Linked DNA regions of Homo sapiens: region 2 is reported to be linked to region 1. The links are microRNA targets in miRTarBase. Many come from high-throughput screens and were not tested one by one. Region 1 holds a microRNA gene; the other region holds the end of a gene's coding sequence.
The links. Region 1 holds the annotated microRNA hsa-miR-181b-2-3p (CUCACUGAUCAAUGAAUGCA, at 3,780-3,799, opposite strand). A microRNA usually pairs through its seed, bases 2 to 8, with sites in the 3' UTR of a target mRNA and lowers its output. Matches are read on the target gene's strand: a 7mer-m8 pairs with bases 2 to 8, a 7mer-A1 pairs with bases 2 to 7 and ends in A, and an 8mer does both.

Region 1 (5,385 bases):
ATCCATTCTCTATGCTTGGAATGCTTACTCTATTTCACCAAGGTAGTTACACATACCCTTGAAGTCTTTACTTATACATCACTTCCTCAAGGAAGTTCCCTGACCCTTCTTACCACCAAGACTGGATTGGTCCCTCCTATTATTTGCTCTCATAGTACCTTACTTTTATCTTCTGCAGAGCTCTTCACACTTGCAATTAGCTATTTGTTCGTTAGAATTAGTTCTGCCTTTTACGTTATATACTTTTGTTTCTTCCATGTCTCCTGGCTCCTGTTGCAGTCCAGGTATACACTAGGTGTCCAATAAGTATTTGTTACCTTTTTCTTTCTGCACTTAGATCATTCTTTCTCAGATCCATGCTTATGAATCATAAATGTGCATTCCTTGTTCTGATATCTGTTCCAAAAGTGGAATCCTCTTTCTTCCATTGTGAAATTGCCCATTTCTTTCTTAGTACACTCCAGGCTCCTAATCTAGTCAGGAAAGTTTGGCATCATTCTTGACTCTTTGCTTTCTTTTCTGTTTGAGCCAGTTCTTTGGAAGGTGGTTCTGATATATCGATATGGAAAGATGGCCACAATATTTTAAGTGAAGAAAGATTTCAGGCCGGGTGCGGTGGCTCACGCCTATAATCCCAACACTTTGGGAGGCTGAGGCGGGTGGATCACTTGAGGTCAGGAGTTTGAGACCAGCCTGGGCCACATGGCAAAATCCTGTCTCTACTAAAAATACAAAAAATTATCCAGGCATGGTGGTACGTGCCTGTGGTCCCAGCTACTTGGGAGGCTGAGGTGGGCGGATCACTTGAGGTCAGGAATTCGAGACAGCTTGGCCAACATGTCAAAACCACATCTCTACTAGAAATACAAAAATTAGCCAGGCGTGGTGGTGAGTGCCTGTTGTTCCAGCTACTTTGGAGGCTGAGGTGAGAGGATCAGTTGAACCCAGGAGGCAGAGGTTGCAGTGAGCCGAGATCACACCACTGCACTCCAGCCTGGGTGACAGAGCGAGACTCCATCTCAAAAAAAAAAAAAAAAAAAAGCTAGAGAACATTATGTATAATTTGTGATGTTATTTTCTCTAAGTATAAATACATGCATTTTAAGTATCTTGAAATATCTGTGAGGCTATACACCGAACAGGATGATGGAAGGGGGTCAGCCAGTAGGCTTTTATTTTGAAAAACAAAAGCCAAAGTATGCCTTTTTGAGATAACCTTTCCTTTCATTCCATTCCTGTTGACTCAGTTCTACCCCTGCTAACTTGTGCAAGAAAGTTCTCTTTTTTCTCTTTTCTTCCCCTCACTTCATCTGCTTAGTGACTCTTCCCAGTCTTGCTTTCATTGTCTCCTTGCTGAGTTTAGCATTTAAAACGGCTCTCTGTTGGACTAATTGACTTTGCGCCTTGCTCACAAGTCCTTCTGTAATATGTCCTTTTACCTTTTCAGTGCCATTCCTTATGACTCCCTAATACAGTCTCTGGACTATTCTCTTCCTGTCCCCTATACATGCCATGTAATTTTTCTGTTACAGGTATTTATTTTGAGGCCTATCTGCAGAAAACACCCTTTAACTTACATAATTGTCTCCCTTCTTGTAGTACTTAGTTTTATCCAAGAGAAAACTTGGATTTGGTTTAATGAAATATATAATTGTTTCATTGGCATATTTAAAGACTATGTAATAGTCTGTAAATAAATAGCATGCTTGTTCAAGTGTACATTTTTCAAAGTACGTGTCAGACATTCTTTTCTAATGTTTTCAGAAATTTTGGAAATAATTGGTTAAAAATAAATGCCTAGAATGCACAGCATCTTGAAAAACAAGACTGCGTGGAGTACCTTCTGTGTGTCTACCAGTCTCACAAAAAACTCTTCTATAAAGACCCCCTCGGGCCGGGCGCGGTGACTCATGCCTATAATCCCAGCAATTTGGGCGGCCGAGGCGGGCGGATCACTTGAGGTCAGGAGTCTGAGACCAGCCTGGCCAACATGGCTCTACTAAAAACACATTTCTTCTAAAAACACAAAAATTGACTGGGTGTGGTGGCGGGCCAGCTACTTGAGAGGCTGAGGCACGAGAATCACTTGAACCCAGGAAGCAGAGGTTGCAGTGAGCCGAGATCGCATCACTGTACTCCAGCCTGGGAAACAGAGCAAGACTGTCTCAAAAAAACAAACAAACGAAAGAAAAACACACACAAAAAAACCTTTTGGTAATTTCTTTGGGTAGGTTTTAGTTTTTTAGATAGCGTAAATCCAAATCCATTCATTTCCATAAAACATCAGACACAATTTGATGTATATTTGGCCACCAAACATGGTGCAAAATTTTATGTAGTCTGGAGATACTTAAAAGCAGCACAAATGTGACTCTACCTGTCTGCACTCAGCAGAATAGTGGCGATTTCAGGTGGTGACACAAAAGGTTGGGCAATAGTTGAAAAGTGGATGACATGAAATGTGGTGGTGGGATGGGGGCAGGAAGCCGATGTTAAGCTAGTGAACTTTATTTACTTTGCTTCCAGCTTCCAGTGACCCAAAATCACCTCGTCTAGAGTAGGGCTCAGGAATTTGCCATTTTAAAAGCAACTCTAGATGATTCTGGTGTACAAGAAGTTTGGGAAACACTGGCTTGAACCTGATATTTTCTCTGAACTCTCATAGTTTTCTTTAGATTTTTCTTTTGGCTTTGATTTCTCTTTCTGGTTCTTGTCTCATTACCCCATCACTTCTCCTTCCTAATTTGACAGGAAAGCCTTGTCAAATTAAGGCTTGCTTAATTGTCAAGGCTAATTTGACAAGACTCTTCTCTTACTGTCTTATTTGACTTTTGCTATGAGAATCTGCTTCTTCTTAGACTTAAGTGTATGATAAATTATTCATGACCAAGGGCCTTGTTTTTCTTTCTTTAACATGGGATTTAGTGGCTTATCTCATGTTACAGGATTTAGAGAGTTGATACTACATTTAAATTTTTTGTTAAGAAAAATGTACATCTTCTATCTCACTTAGGTGTTTTTCCTGTTTGAGGGACATGGTTTGCAAAGGTTAGAATGAATGAGCCTCATAGTTTTTGTCAAAAGAGAATATTGATGTACATCTGAATAATAACCAGAACATTCATATTAAGTCATACTATATAGCCATTTAAAAGAATGACGAGTACATAAAAGACTGTTGTGGAAGTCTATGATATATAGCTGAATAACAAAATAGATTATAGAACAATAGGTAAAAATGAGCTTATTTTTGTCTAAGCCACTCTCCCCCCAAAACATGCAAAATTACAGCTATTTATCTGTGTATGTATGGATAAAGGTCTTCAAGGATATAAAATAAATTCTAGTTATGATATTTATTATCTTAATAAGTTTATTATAATTATACATGTTTTCCTCCGAGGAAATGGATTGCAGATGATGATTGAAGGGATTTTCAATTTTTACTTTGTATATTTTTGTATTTGAATTTCTAAATAATAAGCATATGATTCTGTTTAGAAATTCTGAATGTACTGATTTTTAAAATGTGATGTGATATCCAGATATGTATTTAATTCTTCCTATAAAATATCATTTCCTTAAATCTAGACTATTGAAAAAGGAGAAAAGTACTAGGAATTTAGAGAACTTACTCCATGTTAGAACCAAGGAGAACAAGAAAAGCTTTAGCTAGTGTTTTGGAAATAGTAGCAGCTCCCACTCACAGCAGTAGCTGCTGCACTCAGGCGACTCTCTGCACATGCTTTTGCTTCCTTTGGGTTGTTTGGTCCGCAGTTTGCATTCATTGATCAGTGAGTTGATTCAGACTCAAACCCACCGACAGCAATGAATGTTGAGTGCAGCCATCAGTGTTTTCAGTTGGTGGGGTTGCCTTTGCCCTCCCTGGCTGACTCCTGGCTCTTCTTTTCCATCTCAGTTCTTTGAAGTCTGTGTGTCTGGCTTCTCCCTTAGTAACCAGCCATCTGCATGATTGAGGGCCCACACAGGTGTCCATAACATTGACATTGGAGCTGGGAGGTTATTGCAGATGAGGAAGCTGTGGTTCAGAGAAGGAAGGAGTGCTTGGAGAACCTCACAGGTAGCACTGCGCCACACAGGCAGTGCTTGCATATTAGTACCTGTAAACCACAGCTGAGGGACCTGCTTTTCCTCTTTGTTTTGAACTGAGAAGTATGAGTGCTTTTTTGAGGTAAATTAGCAGATTATGTTGGAGTTTAATAATAACAGCTTACATATATTGAGCATTTGCTGTGGGCTAGTAATGGTACAAAGCACCTTATATATTATCTCATTGAGTCTCAAAACTCCATGATAGGTACTCTTAGCCTCTGTTTTATATGTGAGAAAACTGAGACACTTGCTTAGGGGGTCAAATAACTAGTTAAGGGCTTGAGCCAAGATTCATCCCAGATCTGACTGACTCCAGGGCTAAGTTTTTGCTTGAATTTAGCAAACATTTAAATAAGCATATGTGGGGATATGTGGGCACTAGTAAGGCAATAGCTCATGCTCTAACTGGGATATCAAAAATTAACCATATTAACTATAATTCAAAGTGAAATGTGATAAGAACTGTCACAATTGGATAATTTTGTGCTATTTTTGCTTATTAAATCCTCCCCTTGCCCCTAATTAAAAATTTTGAGAGGATGTGGGAGAAATGGGAGTAATTATTTAACTGGATTTTATTCCAAAACAAAATACGTATTTTTAATAAATTTTTACTTGCTACGTCCTGTTTCTCACCAGAATGGTGCATATCTAGGAGACATGTAGGTACATTAGATATCATCATGGACTGCTCCTTACCTTGTTGAAATGAAACACTTTTTTTGTAAAAACAAACAAATAATAATAAAACACACAACAGAAAGCAAGGAACAGTGAGCAGTAGGAATAAAATTCACTGGACCACATTTGGGGGATTGCAGGACCATTTCTGGTGAACTCATGTGACATGTGAAGGTACAGCTTGCTCTTTTGCTTCAGGAAATGTAGTGTCGTCTGTAAGGACCCCAAGGTACAGTCAACGGTCAGTGGTTTTTTCAAATCCCAAACTCACCGACAGCGTTGAATGTTCCTTGGAGTCCTCTGAAGGCTGGCCTGATAGCCCTTCTTCATTCTCCCATCCACATCCCAAGAACCAGTGAGCAGTGAGACCACCGCTGATGGATGCTCTTACATTCCTCTCTGGGTTTCAAGTCGAGAGTATTTAAATTATAAAATCAATTTGTGTGCAGCAGAGAACTAATGAACTGTGGGATAGACTGTGCAGTAATTTGTACAAGCAGACTCAAATGAATGTCTGAGAAAATGTCTTTGAATGGTATTATTTTGTGATTCTAAAAATGTAAAATACCTGATTTTGCAGTAGTATTTTAA
Region 2 (5,385 bases), not on the chromosome of region 1:
TACTTCCCCACAGGATTGCTATAAGCCCTTGGACAAATCATTTAGCCTTCCTTAATTGACTTGTGCTTAAAATGGAAGGGACCTGGCTCTTAAAGTCTCTTTTACCTCTAGGATATTTGATTCCACACAACAAGAATCTTTAATTCCCGGAGTGCTGTGCTGTATTTTATGTGCCCATGTGCTCTTTTGAATCATGGGCGACTTTATTACTTAACATTAACTGTCGTGGTTTCTGGTGGATCCTTCTTTTTTTTTTTTTTTTTCTTTTTTTTTTTTGAGACAGACTATTGCTCCGTCACCTAGGTTGGAGTGCAGTGGCATGGTCACAGCTAACTCCAGCCCTCTTGGGTTTAAGCTATCCTCCTGCCTCAGCCTCCTGATTAGTGGGGACCAGAGGTGTGAGCCACACTCTTGACTAATTTTTTAATTGTTTGACGGGGTCTCACTACTTTGCCCAGGTTGGTCTCAAACTCCTGAGCTCAAGCAATCCTCCTACCTTGGCTTCCCAAAGTGTTGGTATTACAGGTGTGAGCCATCGTGCCCACAGAAAGTGTTCTTCCCTTGCCCCGAGAAAAACCTGTTTCTGAAAACCACTGCAGCTTCACGGAGGTATCTTCCTTTCTCTCTCCCAATTTACTTCAATCCACAAATGACTGAATATGTGCTTGTTGAGCACCTGGCCCAATGTGTACCCTACATTGTGTTCTTGGCTGTCACTCAGTTCATTGTCAAGGCACTCTTGGGAGGCAGGGGGTATATCAGAGGAATCAGAGGCTCACAGAAACTAAGCAACTTGCTCAAGTTTATGCAGCAAAAATAAGATAGCAGACTGCTGTCAAACCCAAGACTTCTGATTCTATGTCCAGGGTTTGTTTTTGTTATTGTTTCTCTAAATTGATGTTTCCCAAAGTGGGAGACTCACTCTCCAGGTGTAAACCCAAGCTGGTTTTAGATGGTTCGTGGAGAAGGCAGGAAAAGGAATACTGAATCACATGACAGGAAAGTTGTTTTCTTTTCAATTCTCTCTCAAACATCCTGTTTAGTCAAGTAGAAAATGGGCTTGGTGTGAATGTGCCTTTCGTATGTGTTGAATATTTGCTAATCTCCCATCTTAACAGAGAGCTGGTCTCAGGCTTAGCAGCCTCAATAGCAACAGGGTTTAGCAAGAACTTAATAAGATATTTTTATTTCATATTCTATTTTTGGAACATGATATTGTTTTTCTTCACATTGGCGATATAAATTTGCCTTTTAAGGAAAAAAATTAAGGGGGAAATAAAGAAAAGTACTGGATAAATTAGAGTTCAGGTGTCTGAGTATAATGATACAAATCATGCCTGTACATCCATGGAATGAGGCTGGGAGCAGCTCTCCATTTATTCATGCTGCCTCCCTCACTCACGGGACACGCGGGGCTTCATGTGATCATCGTGACACTAAGTTCTGAATCTGCTCTTTATTTATTTCCCTTAGAAATATATAGAAGCAATTATAATGAAAGCCATACTTGCCCTTAGGACCATTGAGGTGTCCTTCTTAAGCATACATTTTATAACTGAAATCAACCCAAGCTAGTAATGGAGTCTTAAAACCTAGAAAAAATATGTAAGTTTATTGCAAAAGATAATATCCCGTTTAAAACAGTTTAGAAATTTACAAAACCTTACATCAGTACATCGTCTTTAAGAAGGTGCTCTATAGATGAGCTGGTATTAAGTTCCAAGGATAGTGAGTATGCATTTATGCATTGCTTTTTAAACTACAGAGAAAGCAGCTACATAAACTCCTGCAATTTAAGTTGATGTATTGGTCTTTTTCCTTTCAATTTTATAAAAGTAATTTTTGCTAAGTTAATATCTCTCCAGCAAACCAGATAACCTCAAGTACAGCATTTCTGTAGAATATCATGGTAGATGTTACGTAATATTTTACAAAGAAGCAGTGATTTTCACATGAATAAGTGAGTATGCAGTTTTGGTATATGTGTGTGTGGTGTTTTAAACATAGAGACGACCATTTTTGTTCATCAGGAAAATGTTTATGGAATCCTATTTCCTCATAATGATTTTAAATATCAATTTTTCAGAAGAGAACTCCTTCCCAGTTTCAGGTCAGTGGCCCAAGCAATGCGGTGTTGTGCTTTGGTGTAGAATCAGTACAGCCTTGTTTGGCTGTATTTCTAGAAATGTCAACATTTTATTTATTTTTTTCTTTTCTTTTCTTTTCTTTTTTTTTTGTTGGGGAAGTGCAGAAAATGTCAACATTTTCTAGTCCCAGTTTTATTTAATTCAGTTAAGGGTTCATGTGAGGGCCTCAACTGGAAACATATCTATGACCACATCAGCTTATTAATTTTGTGTGAGGTACCTCAAACATCTCTTTATCTTCCCAGGCTAACTTTGGCCAGTAATCCAGCTCAGCTCTGAGTCACTCAGCTCACATAATGTGGAACGTGCTAAGAGTTTATAAAGTAGGAAAGCATATGTTCTTATCTGTATTCAAGAATGGACAAACAGGCCGGGAAATTTAAGCCATTTGCCAAAGGCTAGTGGTATAGACTGCTTGGTTGCCTGGATCTCTTAATTCTGGGAACAGGGTTATTTACATTCTAGCATGATGCCCGAGAATATAAATTCACATGAAATTAGCGTAAGCAAAGCAAATTAAGATGGAAGCTCTACTACAAGATAAAATTACATAAGAGGTCCCAAATGATTTCACTTTATTGGATTATCCTCTATTCTGTTCTTTTCCATTGCTGGGGCCAACTGACAGTTGATCGTATGGATACAGGAAAAAAAAAATCTGTGGCTTTTAGCCAGTGGTAGCATATCTTATTGAAATGTGGCTTCTTAAGTATGACAAGTGTATTTATCTTAATTCTAACATGACGTTATATATTCCGGTCTGATTCTGTGGGCTTAAACATTACACTAGAAACAGAACAAGAACATCTTGAATGACATTCCAAGACTTAAATAGTGCAAGCTGATATTCCTTGCCAAATTTCCCTTTCATTCTCACTGAAATAGCTTTGTTCACTGCATCACTATGACAGGGGAAGGTGAAACCATCGGAGTGGTTTGCTCAATTAGGCTCAATTTGCAGTGGGGTAGGTACATCCCACGAACACACAGGATTCTGTGCTCTGCAAAGATTCTAGCTTAGACACTGGATCTTCAGCCAAGGGAATTACAAAATACCTTCTTCGTTTAATGTATGTTTAGTTTCAGGCTCCCTTTCTAGCAATGTCAATCTAACCACATGCTGATAGAGATTTTAATTCAACCAGAAGGAATCTGAGCCTTTCCATCCTACCCCTCATCCACAAGAGTATATAGCAATTACTTAATTATATTACTTTAGTAGTTTGTTCAGCCATGCAAGTTTGACTGGATCCACATGTATGTAGGTCTTGTCAACAGAATGAGCCAGACCTTGAATAACTCAGACTTTGGGATGGAAAGATATTTAAACCTCAAATAGAAAAAACTATATCCTCATCCATAGTCCTGCTAGTTTTTCAATCAGGTGACCATTGTCTGGTCACCAGGAAGGGAGACTGTGTCGATTAATATATGTTTGAACCTATCTACACGGCTGTTTCTGGGATGAAGGGATGAGAAACAGTGTTGTGTTTTATCTTAGCCTTATCTATGTTACTCATAAGATGTAACTGATGGACAGGTTGCTGGATCTCATGATTTTAAATATTGCAGGTAAGTTAACTATGGAGTCTTAAAGTTCACACCAAAAACAGATTCCACCCATTTGCCAGGTGGTCTCAGGCCCTAGGCAGAGAAGAAGCATGATGGTTTAGGGTGGGCCCTGGAACAGCTACAGCTGCTGAAATCCTCTTTGAATTACACTTATCCAGCACAGCCACACCAACAAGTTTATACCCTGGGGTGGCCTGACTCTGCCACAGGCAGAAAGGTGCATGCACCATGAGATGACAGAGCCTTAATTTGGGATCAAGGGGCTAATTAAAAAGGAAAACAACCCAACACACCAGGGTGATCTTGCATAAGCATTTTATGCCCTGCCCACTTCTCTTGTGCTTATTATGTATGCTGATATCTTAGAAAACTGCCAGTTTATCTCATTTTTTTCTATGGTACCTGCTTATAACCTATAACCTCCCTCTACCTTCCGGGTCTGCACAACACTATTTTTTTCTTTTGGGTTTATGAACCCAGGATGGGAAGGAAGTGCTTGGCATCTTGGAGGTGTTGGAAGGTGTAGTGTGGGGTTTTGCTCGTGGTGGGAATCTGGTCTTAAAACTCAGCATGAGTTCTGGCTGAGTGTGACAGGGAACTTGGCAAGCGGTCACTCTAGTGTCCGTGAAGCCCTCAGCAAGCAGTCGCACGCACTCAGGTAAGGATCGTGGTCAGGTGTCCAGCAGCGGCTACATCAGCTCCAAGGCTCTTCTGTTTCACAGGCCAAGGGGCTCACAGCCCAGGGCCTTTGCAAAGAAGCAGGGCAGGCCTTAAGTGCAGTGGATTTCCCATCTCAGGGAAGTGCGTGGAGTTGGGGGGCTGGGGGATGGTCCCAACCAGCTCAGATCCACCAGAAGCATTTCTTTTTCACCTTCTTGGTTTTCCGCCTTAAGTCCTGCTTTTCCGGGGCTGGGGGTTCTGCTGGGGACTTTGGTGGGGGCGATGCCTCCTCAACTGGCTCTGCTTCCTCCAGACTCTGCAAAACTTCATGGAACCTGCCTTCCTGCTGCCGAAAATCATACTCTACACTGAAAAACACAGAGAGGAAGGAAGGAAAGTGAATTCGAATCAGCACAGACTGATTAAGCATCTCTCAGCCCCAACTAATATGGAAGAGCATGAGCTTTGGGATCAAATCCTAGATCCTTAGGTACCTACTGGCTCTTTGACCTTGGGAAAGTGATGCCACCTCTCTGAACCTCTAGTTCTTCAGTGATTGAATTGGCACCTGTAATGCCTTCCTCACAGGGATGTTATTAAGGGTCAGTGAGACCTGATGGCAAGTGTTCTGTAAATATTGGCTCCAGTCTCTCTCTTAATCATTAATGGGGTTTTGGCATGTGTTATGCATGAAAACTGTCTCATTATTAAAAAATTGAGATAATGCAGAGGAACAGACAAGAAAACTGACAGCTCAGTTTCATTATCTGTAAAATGGGGGTAATAAGAGCACCTATCTCAAAGGCTTTCTTTGGAATTAATGTGTGTAAACTGAGATAATATAAATGAAATGCTCAGAGTAGTGCCTGGCGTGCGCTAAGTCCTCCGTATGTGTTAGCTTCTATTACCGCTATCATCATCATCATTAACATAATTTCTACCAATATATTACGTCTTGCTCTTTGAATTGCATCTCAACTTCAAGATATATCTTGGAGAGCTTTAC

Region 2: the mRNA of INSYN2B is a reported target of hsa-miR-181b-2-3p. Seed matches in the 3' UTR shown: 7mer-A1 at 3,038-3,044 and 7mer-m8 at 3,021-3,027.

What each region holds. Positions count from the first base shown.
Region 1 is chr9:124,692,177-124,697,561 of GRCh38, reverse strand. It overlaps MIR181B2 (microRNA 181b-2), which reads right to left and starts at 3,852; the gene lies at 3,764-3,852. All of the region lies in intron 2 of NR6A1 (nuclear receptor subfamily 6 group A member 1), which reads left to right. The region is part of intron 1 of MIR181A2HG (MIR181A2 host gene); the gene reads right to left. MIR181A2 (microRNA 181a-2) reads right to left here and starts at 5,120; the gene lies at 5,011-5,120. RefSeq lists an enhancer at 1,995-2,540.
Region 2 is chr5:169,859,713-169,865,097 of GRCh38, forward strand. INSYN2B (inhibitory synaptic factor family member 2B) reads right to left here. Exons shown (of 4, transcript NM_001129891.3): 4 at 1,591-4,747. The coding sequence ends at 4,561. The region is part of intron 27 of DOCK2 (dedicator of cytokinesis 2); the gene reads left to right. Among named protein-coding and RNA genes, the nearest start is that of INSYN2B, 120 kb to the right of the region's middle.